Regions from separate parts of the Homo sapiens genome. Here regions 2, 3 and 4 are each linked to region 1. Evidence: fine-mapped expression QTL. A gene starts in region 1. Each other region holds a variant in brackets. All regions are shown on one strand. Distances are from middle to middle.

Region 1 (5,149 bases):
CTATAGAACACGTGTCCAGAAGCATGTAGTTCCCTTGCTTTCTGTCTTTATTTCATCCTCAGTATCACTACTGCTTTGGGCAGAATTCTTTCAAAATTTAATTTAAAGCAGCACAGTGGGGGAATCAAAAATAAATATGTTGACTATTAAAAATATAGAGATTGGTAAAAAAAATGATGATGATGAATTCTCAATCCTACAAACTTCTGTAAACGCAAAAACCAAGAGGAAGATAATAAATCTTTAATAATTGATTGATATTCAGAATATCTTGATCTAATTAATTTAAAGCATGGCCTACCTAGCCAGGTAAAGGACGGCACAGCTAGGCTTATTTCTTCATTTGACACATACTGAAAGTTAATAATGAAGCTAGGTGCTTGGGAAATTTCTGAGACCCCATCCTTCCAGCATGCAATAATTAAGTCAAAGAGGCCAACAGTGTGTATATCAGAACAAGGTGAAGGGTAAAGCAGACCAGAAAAAAATATTAAAAACCAAACCATCTCCTCCTTTCTTTTTTTCCTTCTGTTTTCCTTTCAGACTGGGTTGATTTTAGTTCCCTCCAAGACTTCAAGTCATTGATCTAACAAAGATCATTGTTTAAATTAATAGCAACACAAACTCCCACAAAGTGATCTCTTCTTATGCTCTAGGTTGAGTACTTTGGTTTATCTAGAGGTTGTGTGTTACGCCGCTGACCACCTTTCACCTTTTAGAATCGGCACCTGCAATTCTCAAATGCTCTGGATCTAATTGCCAACCTTTTGAGCTCAAAACTTCGGCAACTCCTTCATGTTGGGTTGTCAACCCTTTGCTTTCCCTCCCCTGAGAAATTCGTATGACCTTGCCTTAAAACTTTTAAAGAATACATTTTAAAATCTATATTCCTGCTAAAGAAAACAGTGAGTCATTAAAATACCACCAGATAAAAAAAAAAGGTTTGATTTTTAGTTCAGGTCGGTAATGGCCTGTAAGTACCTTGAAGATGGTATCTTCCTATCACTTATGCCTTGGGACAGTACCCAAGAGTGGCTGAACTTTTACCTAATTAAAAAATGAGTCATTTATTTGAAAAATTCCACTTCCATTTATTTTATCTGATTTCTTAAATATCCGGTCAACTGCTAATTTGTCAGATGTCATAATTCGTCAGTCCTACCCTTTTCTACAGGCTGAATTTTTAATTTGAAACAACTACACCTCTACCGAGTGTTACTTTCAGACGTAAATTACTGCAGGAAGACCCCCCTCTGCCTTGGTTAACACTTAAATGAGATGCCTCCTGTCCAGGACGCTTCCTCAGTCTCACTGTAATAATCTGAGTCTAAAGTCACCTGTGCTTCTGGGCGGTCCAATCATGTATTTTCAAGAGTGAAAAAAAAAAATCAGTTTCTTTTATGGGAAAAGATTCATCACTACAGGAAACACGATGGGACTGACTGTATATGATTATCTGCCTTCCCAGAGGTTGACCCTTTTAAAACCGTTTTATAAACCCTTTATTTCCCACTAAATATACCAAGAGACAGAAGATGAGTGATAGCATGAGGGATAAGAGCTAAAGAGAGAAGAATAAGAAAAAAATATACACTTCAAAAATTGGGACCCAAATGTAAGATTAAGGGACAATAGTTAGAAGGACTACCAAAAACCACCTTACCTTTCCTTGTTAAGTTTTTGGAGCCGCCCACTTCAGAAATTAACACCATTCACAGCCCAGGAGCAACTTAACACAGCTAGGAAGTCACCTACAACATCTTCTCGTCCGCCTTCTTTTTAATGTAAAACCAAAATAAGGAGTGTCCAGCGACTCCCCACCGCGCCGCTTAAAGCAACAGAGCGTTTTAGGCTTAACTCCCAGGCTCTGGGAATTCCAGTGGGTCAGAATTGCTTAACCTTGGAGACTTGCAGAGAGAAAGTCTCCAGGAGGACCGCTCCCCAAACCCTGGTTTCTCTCTATCCCAAGCTGCACATTCCACAGTGGAAAGCGGGAGCGGCGACCCGAAGGCAGCGAAGTTCTCTCGGGCTCAGCTCCCGAGGCCGGGAGCGCGCGGCGGTTCCACCCGCAGAGCGGCGCCGCGTCCCGGCTGCGTGGGGCGCTGCGCACGGGAGCGCTCAGCGTCTAGTCTGCGGGCCCTTCCCGGTTCCCTCCCTCTCTCCTCCCGCCGCCCGCCCCCTGCCGAGGCCATCCGCCTCACAGTAGCAAGGTTGTCTCTCGTCTACTCCCTTCCCTTAAACTCACCAAACCAGATTTTTACTCCCAACACCGGCAACTTCCCGTAAATCTGCCCTGAAATTTTATCCTGCTGGCTGAGCCTCCCCTGGCTAAAGGCCAGTGCCACATTCCTGTTGTTTTTTAGGAGCGCAGATACCTTTGCTGAAGGTTCAAAGAAAATCGGCCTTGATGGCAGAGATTGGGGGACTTGACCAGACGGACTTCTCTCCCCGCCCCAAAAGTCACATGCCTTTCAGACACCCAGAAGTGGCACCTGCTCCACCTGGGGGCATCTGTCCGAGTCAGACGCTCGGCCCCCTTCGGGCTGCTCCGAGAAACCCAGCCAGAACCACGTTGGAGAAATTAGGAACCTGCTGCTGAATTTCAAGCCGATCGGAACCGCCCCGCTCCCCTTCTTCCCCCCATAAACAAGTCGCTGGACGAGGTGGGATCTCTGCGACCCCCGCGTGCCCGGGGAGAGCTCCCGGGGCGAGCTCCCGGGGCGTCCTTACCTGGGGCCGAGCATGGCTTGGCCGCGCGCAGGCAGGAGCGTCACGCGGACGGGGCCCTGACCTTTGCCGGGGCCTTCGCAGCAGGGCCTGGGGCCTGGGCGCTGCTCGTTCAGAAGTGGCTCATTTTAGTGCGCTCTGACCTAGAGTTACGGAGGGTTTCTAGAAAGGGAACAAAAAAACACTGCATTTAGAAACAGCAGCCAAGCCCTCGCTTCACCTTGCCTGCTCTCTGGGGAGTTGGCTCGAACCCCCACCCCATCCCAATTCCCAAGAAACCCAGATGTCCGCAATCCGCGCCCCACCCCCTCCGCCTTACCTGTTTATACAAGAGTTAAGGAGCCTCCCGCATTTCAGTGGAGCGCTAAGCCTGTTTGTAGGCGCGGAATGGGCCAACAGGAATCGAATTCTGTGACTAAACAAACTAGAAGAGGAAGCAGGCACCACCAGGAACCTAAAACAGAGTTGTGATTTCGGGTTGCAGTGTCATTCAGCTGAGGGGAAAGAAAAAAATACCGGGCTACTTTAGTGAAAGAATGTTCCAAAAATGGTTCTTTGCTGGTTGAGTTAACACATGCAAAGAGCTTAGAACGGTGCCTAGCACACAGTGTTAGCTGCCGTTATTGTTGTTGTTATTCTTCTTATTATTATTTACATTATGGCTTTTTTCTGAAGAAGAGTGTGTGGTCAGAGTTAGACATGGGCTGTAGCACCAGCATTGCCACTCACCAGCTGTGAGGCCATGAGCAAGATATTTAATCTCTCCCAGCCTCAGTTTCTGGAAGATTCTAACGATGGGATTTTTACAAACAGTTTATATTCATTGCTGACAGTCTTGAATACAATGGGAAATAAAGTCCCTGTAAAGGGTAGCCAACTGAATTTCATCTCACTTAAAAGTTACAAGATTGACAACAGAAATGGAGATAAATTTGCCTGCATTCCATGAAGCTCACTAACGGGAAGGAAATTCAGGGCCCAGCAATCACCCATCTGCTATGCTTAATTCTCATTTGTATTTTGGCACTTGACCTGGTGTCTTACCCTGGGATAGTTACTTATCCCAGACTGGGCCGGACAAATAATGACCCTTGCCGTTTGAAAAGCAGTATGAAAGAGAGGGAAATGATTTTGAAACTCCTCATAAATATTAAAAAGTGATTATTGAAGGCTAAAATGTTATCAGTGCCTCCACCCTTTATCCTCCATTTAACTTCACATTTAAAGAAAGAAATCATAATCCCTTTCCATTAGTGAGGCCCTTTCTACTTTATGGAGCACTTTCACCCTTCTTACTTTATGTGATCCTTACAAAATGATCCTATGAGCTATTTTGTCCCCATTTTGCAGATGAAGACACTGAGATCACACAGGTTAAGTGTAAGTCCAAGGTGGTGAGGCCAGGACTGGTTCTCAGTTCTAGTTAATTTTTTTTTAAGTTGAAAAATCAAACTGGATTTATTAAAATATATATAAATAACCCTCATTTTTCTTTATTTCATCAGTATTGGAAAGTTAAGTGAAAATTAATTAAAAAGTAGTAGTCCTAAGAGAGAGAAACAAAGGCTGAAGGGGTATCAAGAAAACCATAAATTTAAAAAGCAGCATTTGCCACCTTTGGGAAAAATGATTCCTTAAAACCAGCAAAGCATTCTGGAACATTTTAAATCCTTCTGATCTTTTATCTTCTCATGAGGCAAAATTTAACCCAGACAAATTCAACATTTCCTGTGTTTTAGGTTCATTCTTTGTCGATACCAGCCAGCATGTACTGTGAACAGCAGGCAGTGGGAACTCTCTTAGCTAAGTTCCCTCACCAGACCTAAGGGTTGATGCTGCCAGGCACAAACAACGGCTCCACCCCCTTAAGACAACTAAAAAACCCAGCTCCATATTAGCCTGAAATTTTCTTTTCTTTTCCAGAAGTATCTGGATTATGGCCTCAAAAAAGGCTCGCTGTCACAGACTGTCTGAGCTGAAGGATTCTAGAGGGGACATTCTCGCTGGGCACGGTGGCTCACGCCTGTAATCCCCACACTTTGGGAGGTCGAGGCAGGCAGATAACCTGAGGTCAGGAGTTCCAGATGAGCCTGGCCAACGTGGCGAAACCCCGTCTCTACTAAAAATACAAAAATTGGCTGGGCATGGTGGCAGGCACCTGTAATTCTAGCCACTCGGGAGGCTGAGGCGGGAGAATGGCTTGAACCCGGGAGGTGAAGTTTGCAGGGAGCCGAGATCGCGCCACTGCACTCCGGCCTGGGCGAAAGAGCAAGACTCCGTCTCAAAAAAAAAAATAAACACATAAATAAATTTAAAAAATGATAAAAATAAAAGAAATTTGAAAGTGTGGAGGTCAGTGACTCCAGGTGAACTGGAACTGGAGTCAGGGAAAACTCCTGCTTGAGGAGGCTCAGGTTCCACT
Region 2 (5,149 bases), 49 kb after region 1:
ATTTTTTTTTTGAAATAGAGATGAGGTTTCGCTATGTTGCCCAGGCTGGTCTCAAACTCCTGGACTCAAGCAATCTGCCAGCCTCGGCCTCTTAAACTGCTGGGATTACAGGCATGAGCCACTATGCCTGGTCTTTTTTTCCTTTAGAGACAAGATCTCCTCTGTCACTCAGGCTGGAGTGCAGTGGCACGATCATAGCTCGCTGCAGCTTTAAACTTCTGGGCTCAAGCGATCCTCCCTCCTCAGCTTCCTGAGTAGCTAGGACAATAGGCACAAGCCACCATACCCAGCTAATTTTTACTTTTCTTTTCTTTTCTTTTCTTTTTTTTGAGACGAGAGCTCACTCTTGTCACCCAGGCTGGAGCGCAGTGGCGCGATCTCGGCTCACTACAACCTCCAACTCGCTGATTCAAGTGATTCTCCTGCCTCAGCCTCCTGAGTAGCTAGGATTACAGGTGCGCACCACCATGCCCAGCTAATTTTTGTATTTTTGGTAGAGATAGGGTTTCACCATATCGGCCAGGATGGTCTCGATCGCTTGATCTTGTGATCTGCCCGCCTCAGTCTTTCAAAGTGCTGGGATTACAGGCGTGAGCCACTGCGCCTAGCCTTTACTTTTGTTTTTTTAGTAGAGACAGGGTATTATTATTATTATTATTATTATTATTATTATTATTTTACTTTATTTATTTATTTTTTTTGAGACAATCTTGCTCTGTCACCAGGCTGGAGTGTAGCGGCGTGATCTCAGCTCATGCAACTTCCACCTCCCAGGTTCAATCAATTCTCCTGCCTCAGGCTCCCGAGTAGCTGGGACTATAGGCGCCTGCCACCATGCCCAGCTAATTTTTGTGTTTTTAGTAGAGAGGGGGTTTCACCATGTTGGCCAGGCTGGTCTCGAACTCCTGACCTCAAGTGATCTGCCCACCTCGGCCTCCCAACGTGCTGGGATTACAGGCGTGAGCTACTGCGCCCGGCCACGAGACAGGGTAGTATTATATTTCCCAGGCTTGAATGTCTTTATTTTTACTTTAAAAGATTAATTTTTTTTTTTTTTTTTTGAGACAGAGTCTCACTCTGTTGCCTAGGCTAGAATGCATGGTGCAATCTTGGTTCACTGCAGCCTTGACCTCCTGGGCTCAATCAAACCTCCTGCCTCAGCCACAGGCTGGAATCACAGGCCTGCACCACCATACTCGGCTATTTTTTTTCAGTTTTTCATAGAGACAGGGTCTCACTTTGTTGTCCAGGCTGGTCTCGAACTCCTGGGCTCAAGTGTTTCTCCTGCCTTGGCCTCCCAAAGTGCTGGGATTATAGGGATGAGCCACCTCACCTGGACAAATATCTTTATAAATACTGCTTAAATGTCTTCGTCTACTACATCTAATATCTGCGTAGTCTCAGGATCAGGTCAATTTCTTTGACTACTTTTGTTTTTCTTTATTTTCTTTCTTCCTTCTTCTTTTTTTCCTTTTTTTTTTTTTGCATGTCTAGTAATGTTTTATGGTAATACTGGACACTACAGCTAATACGTTGTAGAAATTTTGGATTCTGTTATCTTTATTTTTGTTCCAATAGGCAGGTCAGTTATTTCCTGGTCACTTTGAGCTTGCATACGAGTTTTTTGTTTGTTTTGCTTTTAACTTCGTTAGGGTAGATCTTTGGAAATTTCAAGATATTTTTCCAACCTTCGAGCTCTGTTTCCCTTGTGGATTTTGTCAAGGCGTAGTTTTAGGCTTTGTTAGGGCATGTCTAGTGTGGGCCTTCCTCTAGGACAGTCGCCTCAAATTTAGTTTGTATCTGAATCATCTGAAGAGCTATTGTTAGAACATAAATTTCTGGGCTTCTTCTCCTGAGTTTCTGATTCAGTAGGTCTGAAGTGGGGCCCTTGAATTTGCATTTCCAACAGTAACGTCTAACAAATTTCCAGGTTATGTTGATGCTGCTGGTCAGGGGACAGCAATTTAAGAAATATTGCTGTAGACCATGATCCTTACTTTCATTTATTTATTTTTTTAAGACAGGGCCTCACTCTGTCATCACCCAGGCTGGAGTGCCGTGGTGTGATCAGGGATCACTGCAGCCTCAATTTCCCAGGCTCAAGCAATCCTCCTGCCTCAGCCTCCTGAGTAGCTGGGACTACAGGCACATGCCACCACACCTGGCTACTTGTAGTTTTTGTAGAGATGGGGTTTCACCATGTTGCCCAGGCTGGTCTCAAACTCCTGAGCTGAAGCTCAAGAGCTCAAGTTCAAGCTTGAGCCCGCCTCGGCCTCCCGAAGTGCTGGAGTTACAGGCGCGAGACACCCGCCCGGCCGTGGTCCTTACTTTTAAGACGTGAACTCTTCGATGTCCCAGCTGGATGCCTGGAGTGTCATTAACAAAGTGTTAGAGTGCTTTCCCACTCAGGCTGAGCCATAACTAATGCCCGCCCCCTCCGTTGCTGCTTGAACTCAATCTCTGCTCAGCTTCTTCCACCGCACAGAAGCTGGTACCTGGTCATCCTTGGGT[A/C]GTCTCACCTTTCAAATGTGCAACACAGCTCTTAACCAAGTGCTCAGAGGACACCCCCACGAGGATTTTTTGGAGTCCTTCCTCTGCAAAGCTCCTGTCTCCAGTGTTCTAACCAGCAGATTCCAGCTGCTCAGCTGCCCGAAACTCTGTACTCTGCCTCCTCAGCTTAGTTAAGTTCTCCTTTTCCTACTTGGATGCCAGGAAATTGCCCCCCAGGTAAAGAGCCAGAATGATTCTGGGGCTTAAAAAAGATGAGTTTCTCGGCCGGACGCGGTGGCTCATGCCTGTAATCCCAGCACTTTGGGAGGCTGAGGTGGGCGGATCATGAGGTCAGGAGATTGAGACCATCCTGGCTAACACGGTGAAACCCTGTCTGTACTAAAAATACAAAAAATTAGCCAGGCATGGTGGCAGGCGCCTGTAATCCCAGCTACTCAGGAGGCTGAGGCAGGAAAATCGCTTGAATCCAGGAGGTGGATGTTGCATGAGCTGAGATTGCGCCACTGCACTCCAGTCTGGGCGACAGAGCAAGACTCTGTCTCAAAAAACAAACAAACAAACAAACAAACAAAATGATGAGTTTCTTTTCCCTCAGGGACCAGAGACTTGTACTCTCTCCTGGCCAATTCCTGAAACAGTTGACTAATACTTGGTTTTTTTTGTTTGTTTTGTTTTGTTTTTGAGATGGGGTCTCGCTCTGTCACTCAGGCTGAAGTGCAATGGCACAATCACAGCTCACTGCAGCCTTGAACTCCTGGGGTCAAGCAATCCTCCCACCTCAGCTCCCAAGTAGCTGGGACCACAGGATGCGCAACAGGGTCTCGCTATGTTGACCATGCTAGTCTTAAACTCCTGGGCTTGCCGGGTGCGGTGGCTCATGCCTGTAATCCCAGCACTTTGGGAGGCTGAGGTGGGTGGATCAACTGAGGTCAGGAGTTCAAGACCAGCCTCAACATGGAGAAACCCCGTCTCTACTAAAAATACAAAATTAGCCCGGCGTGGTGGTGCATGCCTGTAATCTCAGCTACTCGGGAGGCTGAGGCAGAATTGCTTGAACCTGGGAGGCAGAGGTTGCGGTGAGCCAAGATGATTGCACCATTGCACTCCAGCCTGGGCAACAAGAGCGAGACTCGGTCTCAAAAAAAAAACACACACACAAAAACAAAAACAACTGCTGGGTTCAAACAATCTGCCCACCTAGGCTCCCAAAGTGTTGGGATTACAGGTGTGTGTGTGTGTGTGTGTGTGTGTGTGTGTGTGTGTGTGTTTTAATGGTGGGATGGCTGGTCTTATACCAATTACTACCCCATTATAGCCAAGAGTGGAAGTTCTGGCTTTAGACCTTTGAATTTAAGGAAACTTGGACCATCCAGACAAAGGAGTCTACAAAGAAAAAAGCCTAGAGATAAAGGTTTGGAAGGCATCAGGGCACAACGGTTTGGAAGACCAAGGGCAGAAATCACATAGGAAAGTTATACAAAATGAGAAGAGGGGAGGATCAAAGACAGAATCTTGGGGGAACCACCAGTTTTTCATGGATGAGTGGAAGAAGGCTGGCAAAAGAAACAGAAGGACTGCTCCAACAGTCAAGAGAAGAACCAAATGTTCCAGAAGTCAATGGAGAAGAGGTTTTTAAATTTTTTTTGAATTTTTACTGTTTTCCTCCCCTGTGCTAAAAAAATAGCTTTAAAAATTTTCAAGCAACCTTATGACAACATGCTATTATCAGTCCCATTTTATAGATGGAGATAAAGATGATGAAACTCAAAGGTTAAGTAACTTGCTCAAGGTCAATGGAGCTGCAAAGGGCAGAGCTAGGACTTGGATCCAGGCATTCTGGCTCCAATACATCACAATGTACTGCTTCACTCCAAAATAAGACAAGATGGCAAATGCAGCAAGGCTGTCCATGAAGCTGAGGATAGAAAAGTGCTTACTGGGGCCAGACGCAGTGGCTCACACCTGAATCTTAGCACTTTGGGAGGCTAAGGTGGGTGGATCACCTGAGGTCAGGAGTTCGAAACCAGCCTGGCCAACATGGCAAAACCCTGACTTTACTAAAAATACAAAAATTAGCCGGGCTTGGTGGCTCATGCCTGTAGTCCCAGCTACCTGGGAGGCTGAGGCAGGAGAATAGCTTGAACCTGGGAGGCAGAGGTTGCAGTGAGCTGAGATGGCACCACTGCACTCCACCCTGGGTGACAGCGAGACTCCATCTCAAAAAAAAAAGAAAGAAAAGAAAAAAGAAAAGTGTCCATTGGATTAGGCAAAAGGGCCACTGGTAAGCTCAGAAAGAACTCACAGTAATAAACAATAGGTGCTAATTAACTGTTCAACAGGATTGGTTCCTGGCCTAACTGGTCTTTGGGGCCAGCAGTGTGCCATACACATGGCACCTCTCAGCCCTGGCTTGCATTGTCCTCGTTGGAAACCTATTCCAGGTTTACGCTCTGAAAAAGAGCAGGCACATTCCCTAATGCCTTCAGGGAAAACAAGACCCAGCGCTCCAGCTTCCTGAAGTGTATAAGAGAAGTGTGACGTGCCTGTTTATAACCCAGCAACTATACTCAGGCATAGACTTAGATGCATTTGAACATATCATCAACACAATTACCTGTACCCAGATTAGCCTCAGCAA
Region 3 (5,149 bases), 50 kb before region 1:
TTTCTTAAATGGGCCAGTTTCAAATCTTTAATTGGCATAATGAAACTCCCTGCTTTAATCCTTAAAGTAATCTGATGTTATTTTTCTGTTGTTCTGTCTCCTGTTGTCCCATTCCTTACAAAAAAAGTATCTTTGAAACAATTAATATACTTTAAGTTCTTTCCTTCTACTTTATAAAGCCAAGCTCTTCTGCTCGGCTGACTGGAACCCTTTTCCTATAATATGGAAGGAAGTGTTGCCCGATTCTAGAAACTCAAATAAAAGCAATTGAGAACTTTAAACTAAATTTGTTGCAATTTTGTCTTTTGACACATAGGATTTTCCTCCTGACACTTATAGACAATTGTAGAATAAATGGCCTCCCTCTGCCTCCATTTTCTACTTCCATTCATTTTCAGTGTTCTTAGCTTTTTCTTTCTACATGCCCACCACTTAGATTTCATTGTTCTTCCATCTGAAAGCTTTGCTTATGGCCTTTTCTATCATTTTCTCTTCTACCTTAACTTCTAGAGTTATTATGTTACCTAGGACAAGAGATATGACTTCTCACTGCCTCAGTTCCTCATCTGTAAATGGTGCTGTGTAGCAGGGCCTGCTGTAAGGGCTAAGGGGTAACGCACACAAAGTGCTTGGCACAATGCTACACACAGTAGGTGCTCAAAATGTGATAGCAAGCTGGGCACGATGGCTCACGCCTGTAATTCCAGCACTTTGGGAGGCCAGGGAGGGCAGATCACTTGAGGTCAGGAGTTCAAGACCAGCCTGGGCAATATGGTGAAACCCCATCTCCACTAAAATAACAAAAAATTAGCCAGACATGGTGGCGTGCACTTGTACTCCCAGCTACTCAGGAGGCTGAGGCAGAAGAATCACTTGAACCTGGGAGGCGGAGGCTACAGTGAGCCAAGATCATGCCACTGCACTCCAGCCTGGGCAACAGAGCGAGACTCTATCTTAAATTAAAAAAAAAAAAAATGCAGCCAGGCACGGTGGCTCACGCTTGTAATCCCAGCACTTTGGGAGGCCAAGACTGGCGGATCACGAGGTCAGGAGACTGAGACCATCCTGGCTAACACACTGAAACCCCATCTCTACTAAAAATACAAAAAATTAGCTGGGCATGGTGGCACGCGCCTGTAGTCCCAGCTACTCAGGAGGCTGAGGCAGGAGAACCACTTGAACCCGGGAGGTGGAGGTTGTAGTGAGTCGAGATCATGCCACTATACTCCAGCCTGGGTGACAGAGCGAGACCCTGTCTCAGAAAAAAAAAAAAAAAAAATGCAATAGCAAAGAAACAAATTGGATGGGAATAACTAGTTCAGATTCTCTAGGTAAAACTCTATAACTTTAAGGGTAATTATTTAAAAGTTATTAAAATTATAAAAAATAAGATCTGACTTAAGTGGGAACTAGATTACCTATTTTAGGGAGATGATATGAAGAAAATTTACCCATCTTATGGAGGTGGTTCAAATCAGAGCACTTCTCCATACACGAGTCAATCTACATTCCCAAGAAGCTCTGAAGCATTTTTCTCTGTGGGTCTTTGCTGGAGTTATTACATTGAGAAAGTAAACTTTAGGGTAATTTTTTTTTTTTTTTTGAGACTAGGTCTCACTCTGTCACCCAGGCTGGACTGCAGTGGCACAATCACAGCTCACTGCAACCTCTGCCTCCCTGGCTCAAGGGATCCTCCTACCTCAGTCTCCCATGTAGAGGTGACCACAGGTGCACACTACCATGCCTGTCTATTTTTTTAAATTATTTTTTATTTTTGTAGAGACAGGGTCTCGCCTTGTTGCCCAGGCTGGTCTTGAACTCCTGGGCTCAAGGGATCTTCCTGCCTTGACCTCCCAAAGTGCTGGGATTACAGGAGTGAGCCACCGCTTCCGGCCTACTTTTAGAGGATTTATAAATTCGAATTGGTCTAAGTTCCAACATGCCAAATATCCTGGACCTCTCACCAGTAAAAAATTTTCCTTCAGTTGAACTTGGTTTAGTTAGCAAAGTCAAATGAGTCCACTTCATGGATATTTTCTAAATGTGTTTCCTCATACTTTTTTTTTTTTAACTCTTAGAATCCAAGTGACTCATCTGTGTGCTTGAATCCTTTCCACTGTCTCATCTCCCTCATCCAAGTTTCTAGTACCTTCTCTTTGTTGTGAAGGATAATCAAACTGAACAACAAAAAGTTTACTCTCCTCATTTGGAACCTAAAAACTCTCTTCTTCCTGGGTCTGAGGGCTCCAAGAATCCTTGAATCAGTTCTCAGATCATTGTGGACACCAGATCAGGAACCTCAGGCACGTGG[G/GA]AAGGCCAGATAATTAGGAGGGATGCTGAAGAGAAAGCCCGATGACCACAGCACGGTGATGGTTTAAAGGCCTTGAAATTTGGTTACCATCATTCCCCAACCCACCAACCGCCCATGGGCTGCATTCACCAGCACGCACTGGCAGCCGCAGCCACCCGTTCTCTTTCCTTGCATTGCTGAGCAAGTTTCCCATATCATTCAGTTAGGCTCAGCTCTCACACATATTGAGGAATGATCCCTACCACTGCTCGCACATGAATGGGAAAGGATGTACAATACATAAAGGCAGAGACAGGAGAATTTCAGACAGTGGTAAAAGTTGTGAGGTAAATAAAGCAGAGGAATGGGACAGAGATTAACAGAGATTGGTGAGAGAGAGAAGGCCACTCTGATATTTGTGCTGAGAGTTGAACAAAGAGACAGGGAGCCTAGCAAGGATCTAGGGAAAGAGCAATCTAGGCACAAACAAGGGCAAACGCCCCATGGCGGGAACAGGTTTGTTCATTTTGTTTTCGCTTTAATTCCAGGAACAAGAATCTGTGGCTGGAATCTGGTAATGGAGGCAGAGGTGGGAGCACAGAGGTTGGGAGGTGGCCAGAGGTCATGAGCTGAAAAACTCATGAGCCATAGGAGGGAGCTTGGGTTTTAGTCTAAAGAAAAGGAGAAAGCCGGGCACGGTGGCTCAGGCCTATAATCCCAGTACTTTGGGAGGCCGAGATGGGAAGGTTGCTTGAGTCCAGGAGTTCGAGACCAGCCTGGACAATATAGTGAGACCTCATCTCTACAAAACATTTAAAAATTAGCTGAGCATGGTGACATGCGCCTGTAGTCCCAGCTACTCGAGAGGCTGAGGTGGGAAGATCCCTTGAGTCCGGGAAGCAGCGGTTGCAGTGAGCCGAGCTCACACCACTGCTTCCAGCCTGGGTGACAGAGCGAGAACTTGTCTCAAAAAAAAAGTAATAATAAATAAATAAATAAATAAATAAATAAATAAAAGGAGAGGTCATTGGAGAGTGTTAAGCTTGCAGGGGGACTCTGGGGAAGATGAAGAATGAGAAAGCATCTCATAGAGATGGTTTGTTTGGTTTCTTGGAGGAAGACTTCTTCCAGGTTGATACAATCTACTTGTGAGTGGATGAGAAGGTGGGGGTGGTGGGGGAAGAGGTGAGATTAAATTATCTCTTCTTCAGAAGACAGCTCAGAAACCACAGACAGAAAATGCCTTAAAAGATAACCAGAGAGCCTTCAGGGTGTGTGTGAAGAGAGGCTGCAGCCCAGGTGTATGGCATCAGTCCTGCAAGAGGGAAAAGAAGTGAAAGGGAGCTTCAGCAGCTCCCACAGTCACAGAGCTCGGGAGCCCAGCTGTCTCCTGAACGCCAGCCCCAGGAGCAACCAGACCTCCCTCCTCCACTCTGTGAGCAGCGCCTCAAGCTCACCATATCCAATGCTGACCTCATTATCTCCCCCGAACCCGCTTCCCCTCCTCTGCACCCATCTTAGCAAGTGGATCGCCATCCCCCAGGTCCCTACACCAGAATCCCGGTTGGCGCCTCTCACTCCTGCTCCTACACTCCCTTCACCCAGTCAGTCACTGAGGCTTACTGAGTCCACTCCCAGAACCCATCTCGAATCTTCATGTCTCATCTCCCTCTTACTATCCCTGCAGCCTATGTCTTAGTTCAAGTTCTTCACTCAGACCCTCACTATAGCTTACTAACAGGTGCCATTCCTAACTCTAGTCCTTGTTGCCAAACTAATCTTTCCAAAACTAAGATCTGGGCCAGGCATAGTGGCTCACGCCTGTAATCCCAGCACTTTGGGAGGCCAAGGCAGGAGGATCACCTGAGGTCAGGAGTTCAAGACCAGCCTGGTCAACATGGTAAAACCCCGACTCTACCAAAAATACAAAAATTAGCCAGGTGTGGTGGTGCGTGCCTGTAATCCCAGCTACTTGGGACGCTGAGGCAGGAGAATCGCTTCAACCCAGGAGGTGGAGGGTGCAGTGAGCCGAGATTATGCCACTGTACTCCAGCCTGGGCAACAGAGCAAGACTCCATCTCAAAACAAACAAACAAACAATAAAAACAAAAACTAGGATCTGATGACATCACTCACTACCAATAGTCAGCAAAGCATTCCAGGATCTGTTCCCTGCCTCACTCCAACTCCATCCTTCCGTACTATGACCCCATATGCCATACAAACTTGTCACGTTTCCTGAACACATTCTTCTGGCTCCGGGCTGTTTCATGTGTTGCACTGAGCCCTCTACCTGTTTCTTCTTCAACCTTATACCCTACTCTCAACGCCTAGTCAGTCATCAAAACCATTCAATTGTCACCTCCTCTACAAAGTCTAGTCACCACCCTGGTAGAATCCATGTCTCATTACCACCCTTGCCCATGCTGTACTCTCTTCCAACTCTATCAGAGCAACTGTAACATTGCATTGCCCTTATTTATAAACTCTTTCTGCTAGTGAATAAGCACCTCGAAGGCAGCTTAGCACATAGCAAGTGCTCAATACACACTCAAAAATCAAACTAGTAGAGTAAGTGGAATGTGCGAAGTACAGAAGAGACAGGGAAAAGGAGCTTCAAGGTTATGGGTTAATTGCAGAATGGGAATAAAGAACAAGAAAGAGCAAAGGGAGACAAAAGCAAGGTCAGGCCGGCCAAGCACAGTGGCTCACGCCTGTAATTCCAGCATTTACTGGGAGGCTGAGGTGGGCAGATCACTTGAGTCCGAGAGTTCAAAACCAGCCTCCGTCTCTACTAAAAATACAAAAAAAATTAGCTGGGCATGGTGGTGCACACCTGTAATCCCAGCTACTTGGGAG
Region 4 (5,149 bases), 210 kb before region 1:
TGTTACTCTTTTAATAAAAAGTTTAAAAAATATCCACGTAAAGTACTTGACCATTGGCATATATGGTAAGTTACTGTCAGCCATTATTCTTATCTCCTGCTGAATGATCATCATCTAAGACTTTAACATTATTCCCAAACACAAGGAAAATGAGGAACCAAAAAAAGACATGCTCGCCGAAGGCAGGCTTGACTGAGCACTCAGTGGCACGGCTGTTTGCACTAAAGCGTTGGGTAATTTCTAAGTAGATTATTTTGGCTGTTGTCTCTTATGCACAAGAGATTCCCTCTATAAATGCTAGAGCACATTTAGAATCAGTTGCATTTCCAGAATTTCTCTCCTTAGGGGAGTGTCTTATTTGGAAAGGGGACATTAGGGGTTTATTGGGAAGCTGAGTCTGCATAGTACTCTATATAAGATTGAGAAAGGGTCAAATGGCCAAATTTGAATGGGGGTGGAGGTGTGAGGGTGGTGAGGTCGACGGAAGTAAAACTATCTCATGGTGCTGTCAGTTTGGAATAAAGGTCGTGAAAAAGGAGCGGAAAAATCCCAGCAAAACCAAACTGGCATGGCCCAGTGTTATCACAATACCATTAAGTGCAAATGTTTTGACCCAGCACACCCCCAGCAAGGTCATCTCAGAAAAAACTGGGCTTCAGTGACATCTCTTAGCTGCCTTAGAATGACTAAGGTTATTTAAACCTCATGGTTGGTTAATCATTAATGAAGATTTTTGACAAACAAAGTAGAACGAGCCAAGAAAGAAGGGTGGCTAAAAATTAGCCTAGGAAAGGTCATATTTCTTGCATATGCAGGGATTAGTGTTGCTTTTGTTTCTGGTAACTGTGCAGAATGGAGTTTCAAGGAAATATGATCCTGTTGGGGAAGCCAATGTGTCTCTGAAGATTTTACTTAGGATTCTCCTCCACTGTATTAGTCCATTCTCATGCTACTAATAGAGACATATGCGTGACTGGGTAATTTATAAAGGAAAGAGATTCAATGGACTCACAGCTCCATATGGCCAGGGAGGCCTCACAATCATGGCAGAAGGTGAAGGAGGAGCAAAGGCATGTCTTACATGGCAGCAGGCAGGGCAGCATGTGCAGGGGAACTGCCTTTTATAAAACCATCAGATCTCATGAGACTTACTATTGTGAGAACAGCACGGGAAAAACCTGCCCCCATGATTCAATTACCTCCCACCAGGTCCCTCCCATGACACATAGGGATTATGGGAGCTACAATTCAAGACGAGATTTGGGTGGGGACACAGCCAAACCATATCATCCACCCTCAGTCATCTGGAGGACTATAGGCCTCCATCACCTTTGCTGAGAAGCCTGCATTCCTGTCCCATGGGGGGTTTACGTAGGAACAGTGGGGACACCCACATGCAGCTGCTGTATGACCCAAGAGGAAAGGGTGAAGGTCCCAGAGGCTGGAACCTGGACCTGCACAAGAAACAGGTGGGCAGCCCTAAAAGCTTTGATTGCTGCTATAAACTCCTGGACAAGCTCAGAGTTGGGAGGCATCCCCCCCTGGGGCCAGGAAGGCAGCAGGAAGGGAGTTTTTCACTAGGGGCAGCTCTAGCTTCAGCAGTGTAGATAAACGCAGGGCTCCACCATTTCCTGAAAGTCCTAAGAAGGAATGAATGATTGAGGGTTCTTTCTCTGTGATTACTGGCTCCCCTAGCTTCCTTGTCATAGGGACCAAATCTCTTCCTCCCACAGTTAACACAGGGCCATGAACCCTATTTAATGTTGAACAGTGCAAAGGTTGGATTTCTTCACACTTTCTCCTCCTTTAAGGCAGCCACCCTGAACTGATTTCATGGACTTGATGATACCGTGTTCTTTCCTCCGGGCCCAGGCATTTCCCGATCCCTTTTCCCCCTACTCATCTGCCTAACTCCTATTCATCTTGTAGATCTCTGGCTCGAGCCTGGGTGTGTGCCCCTTCCATAAAACAGTCTTATCATGCCTGGGAGTTTCCAGAAGGCAGAGGGTCAATTTTGTTGATTTATTTCTCTGGTGAATCCTGCATAGTTGGTACTCCAGCAATGAATGTTTATGGAATAAACAGGTGAATAAAAGAATAAAAAATTTCAGTGAATGAAAGAGTTAAAAAAATCATAAAAGGATTTAAAATGGAAAGGCTTGATAGAATTAACAAAGAGGAATGCAGTCACACTAGAGTTTAAAAAGGAGATGGGAAAGGAAATAACTGTCTATAACTCGTCTCATTTTTTTTTTTTTTTTTTGAGATGGAGTCTCCTTCTGTCACCCAGGCTGGAGTGCGGTGGCAC[G/A]ATCTCAGCTCACAGCAACCCCTGCCTCCTGGGTTCAAGTGATTCTCCTGCCCCAGCCTCCTGAGTAGCTGGGATTACAGGCTCACACCACCATGCCCAGCTAATTTTTTGTATTTTTAGTAGAGACGGGGTTTCACCATGATGGCCAAGCTGGTTTTGAATTCCTGACCTCAAATGATCCACCAGCCTCAGCCTCCCAAAGTGCTAGGATTACAGGCGTGAGCCACCACGCCTGGCCAACTCATCTCATTTTTATAATAACCTTATGAGGTCAGGATTATTATCCCTATTTTACCAGTTAAGAAACTGGTACTGAGAGGTAAGGCATCTTCTTCAAAGTCTCATGACTTGCAAGTAGCAAAGCTGGGGTTTCACCCCTAGGCATTCTGACCACAAACCCAGCCTATTTTAGTAGGCCATGGCACTTGCTCATACAGGTTAGCATTTGGGTAATCACATTTGTCCCCTAAATTTATTGGCATGAAGAGTTAGAAACAGGAATGCTGGGTACTAGTAAGTGAAAAGAGGAGACAGGAGAAAAGGCTGTACCCAGTCCAATAGCTTAGACCTTGGAATTGATGTAAAACATTTTGTGGATGTCCCCTGAGTCTCTTTCTATATTTAAACCTAATCCTCCCTTTGACCTTGGGGGTTCAGAAATGGTGAATGTGTCAAGGAAAAGGTAGGATAAGGTCAGAACATCTGTATCATCCTACCCAGTAGCTGAAGATGGATTTTGTTTTTAGGGTCATGGTGTCAAAACGTTATTTCATCTAAACAGCCATGCCAAAATGTCACACTTCCTATGACTTAAAAAATCAAATCCAAGGCCGGGCGCGGTGGCTCACGCCTGTAATCCCAGCACTTTGGGAGGCTGAGGTGGGCAGATCACGAGGTCAGGAGATCGAGACCATCTTTGCTAACATGGAGAAACCCCGTCCCTACTAAAAATAGAAAAAGTTAGCCGGACGTGGTGACGGGCACTTGTAGTCCCAGCTACTCCGGAGGCTGAGGCAGGAGAATGGTGTGAACCCAGGAGGCGGAGCTTGCAGTGAGCTGAGATCGCGCCACTGCACTCCAGCCTGGGCTACAGAGCCAGACTCCGTCTCAAAAAAAAAAATAAAATAAAAATCAAATCCAAACAAAACAAAACAAAAAACTCAAATACAAAGCCTCAGTGCCCAGAAGGCTTTATAATAAAGAAATCATATAAAAATTGAATATACAAGAAAAATCAGGTTATGTTTTCTAACTCTTCTTTCAATTAAGTTCTTTGCATGTTGTCATGACAGACATTTTTGGAATCAAAAAAATGGGGCATTTAGAACCTGGGACAAGGAGTCTTGAGTGTAGACTTTTTTTTTTTTTTTTTTTTTTTTTTAAGACAAGGTCTCACTCTGTCACCCAGGCTGGAGTGCAGTGGCATGATATTGGCTCACTGCAACCACTGCCCTCCTGGGTTCAACTGATTCTCCTGCCTCAGCCTCCTGAGTAGCTGGGACTACAGGTGCCACCACCATGCCCAGCTAATTTTTATATTTTTGGTAGAGATGGGGTTTCACCATGTTGGTCTTGAACTCCTGACCTCAAGTGATCCACCTGCCTTGGCCTCTTAAAATGCTGGGATTACAGGCGGCAGCCACTGCGCTTGGCCTTGAGTATAGATTTGAGTCCTATTACCAGCTGTGTGATCTTGACCAGTCACATATCTTTATCTGTCCTGCCTGTTTCGCTGAGTTCTTGACAGGTCCATCTGAGGTTATGGAAGCCTAACAGCCCAGTGAATCACATGATCATAGTCATTCTCCTCATGTGACACGCTATTGGCCTCCTCATTTTGATTGTTAATTCTTTTTCTAAAGAGATCAGTCTAACCTGAATGTGATCCTGCAACTTGAAGACCTTTTGTACTTATTTGCTAGAACAAGAAGATCAGCAGCTCTTGTTGCTCCTAAAAACACTGCCTAATAAGCTGTCATCTTGGGAAGTTTCCCAGTCTGTTCAGCCTCTAAAAAGGCCTTTATCCATTTAAGAGGAAGCAGGAAGTTAGAATTCCAAGAAATGCAGGTTGGGAGGCCACAGTCCAGGTTCAAATCTAAGAAGGTAAAATTCTTAATCACTGGCAAATCCAAGTGGAACTTTATTCTATTGACAATCCACCACCTTCCCTCCTGTCATCTGATTGGCTTTGATGATAGATACTGTCTGAAGTTAGTGATGATCTCTAGAGAAAAGGAAAGTGTCCTGTTAACCTTGCTATGCACGGTGAAAAGGAGAAACGAGAAGGTTTTGGTTTCAAATGCAATGACCAACATCAAGGTCATCCCAGCACTTTCATGAGACCATCAGAAAACTCAATGTACATCAACTCTCTCCATTTAAAATTCTGCGTGTAAAGCCTTTGGGATTATAAATAAACTTTGGCACTGAGGGTGGTGACAGGCTTTGTCACATCCTATTCCAATCCAGATTTGAGTATTATTTGAGTGTTCAATCTCCTACCACTTGAGCCAAAGTTTGAGGATACTCATAATTCACAATTCAGCTATGTAACCCATCTTTTTTTTTTTTAAGATGGAGTTTTGCTGTTGTTGCCCAGGCTGGAGTGCAAAGGCATGATCTCGACTCACTGTAACCTCCGCCTCCTGGGTTCAAGGAATTCTCCTACCTCAGCCTCCCACGTAGCTGGGACTACAGGCACCCACCACTATGCCTGGCTAATTTTGTTTGTATTTTTAGTAGAGATGAGGTTTCACCATGTTGGCCAGATGGTCTCGAACTCCTGACCTCAGGTGATCTGTCCGCCTTGGCCTCCCAAAGCGCTGGGATTAGAGGAGTGAG

Which allele goes with the higher level. Positions count from the first base shown, and alleles are read on the strand shown. Sizes are in standard deviations (SD) of each study's normalised expression. Not every link is listed here.
For the expression in fibroblasts of the gene that starts at base 2,132 in region 1, G is the high allele of the variant in region 3 and GA is the other (moderate effect, 0.42 SD a copy in GTEx).
For the expression in thyroid of the gene that starts at base 2,132 in region 1, allele A in region 4 goes with a lower level than allele G (small effect, 0.23 SD a copy in GTEx).

The links. PIP is the estimated chance that this variant, and not a neighbour inherited with it, causes the effect.
Region 2: its variant is the best candidate, but not a certain one, in a credible set for the expression of RBM47 in thyroid (GTEx, PIP 0.66).
Region 3: its variant is the best candidate, but not a certain one, in a credible set for the expression of RBM47 in fibroblasts (GTEx, PIP 0.59).
Region 4: its variant is the best candidate, but not a certain one, in a credible set for the expression of RBM47 in thyroid (GTEx, PIP 0.80).

Annotation. Positions count from the first base shown.
Region 1 is chr4:40,627,733-40,632,881 of GRCh38, forward strand. RBM47 (RNA binding motif protein 47) reads right to left here and starts at 2,132. Exons shown (of 7, transcript NM_001098634.2): 1 at 1,664-2,132. RefSeq lists enhancers at 989-1,865, 1,866-2,743, 1,926-1,995.
Region 2 is chr4:40,676,842-40,681,990 of GRCh38, forward strand. No RefSeq gene overlaps it. Among named protein-coding and RNA genes, the nearest start is that of RBM47, 50 kb to the left of the region's middle. The variant A/C (reference allele first, on the strand shown) is at 2,512.
Region 3 is chr4:40,578,163-40,583,311 of GRCh38, forward strand. All of the region lies in intron 1 of RBM47 (RNA binding motif protein 47), which reads right to left. Among named protein-coding and RNA genes, the nearest start is that of RBM47, 49 kb to the right of the region's middle. RefSeq lists a silencer at 3,817-3,995. The variant G/GA (reference allele first, on the strand shown) is at 2,312.
Region 4 is chr4:40,417,939-40,423,087 of GRCh38, forward strand. No RefSeq gene overlaps it. Among named protein-coding and RNA genes, the nearest start is that of RBM47-AS1, 5.6 kb to the right of the region's middle. RefSeq lists an enhancer at 647-791 and a cis regulatory region at 712-725. The variant G/A (reference allele first, on the strand shown) is at 2,309.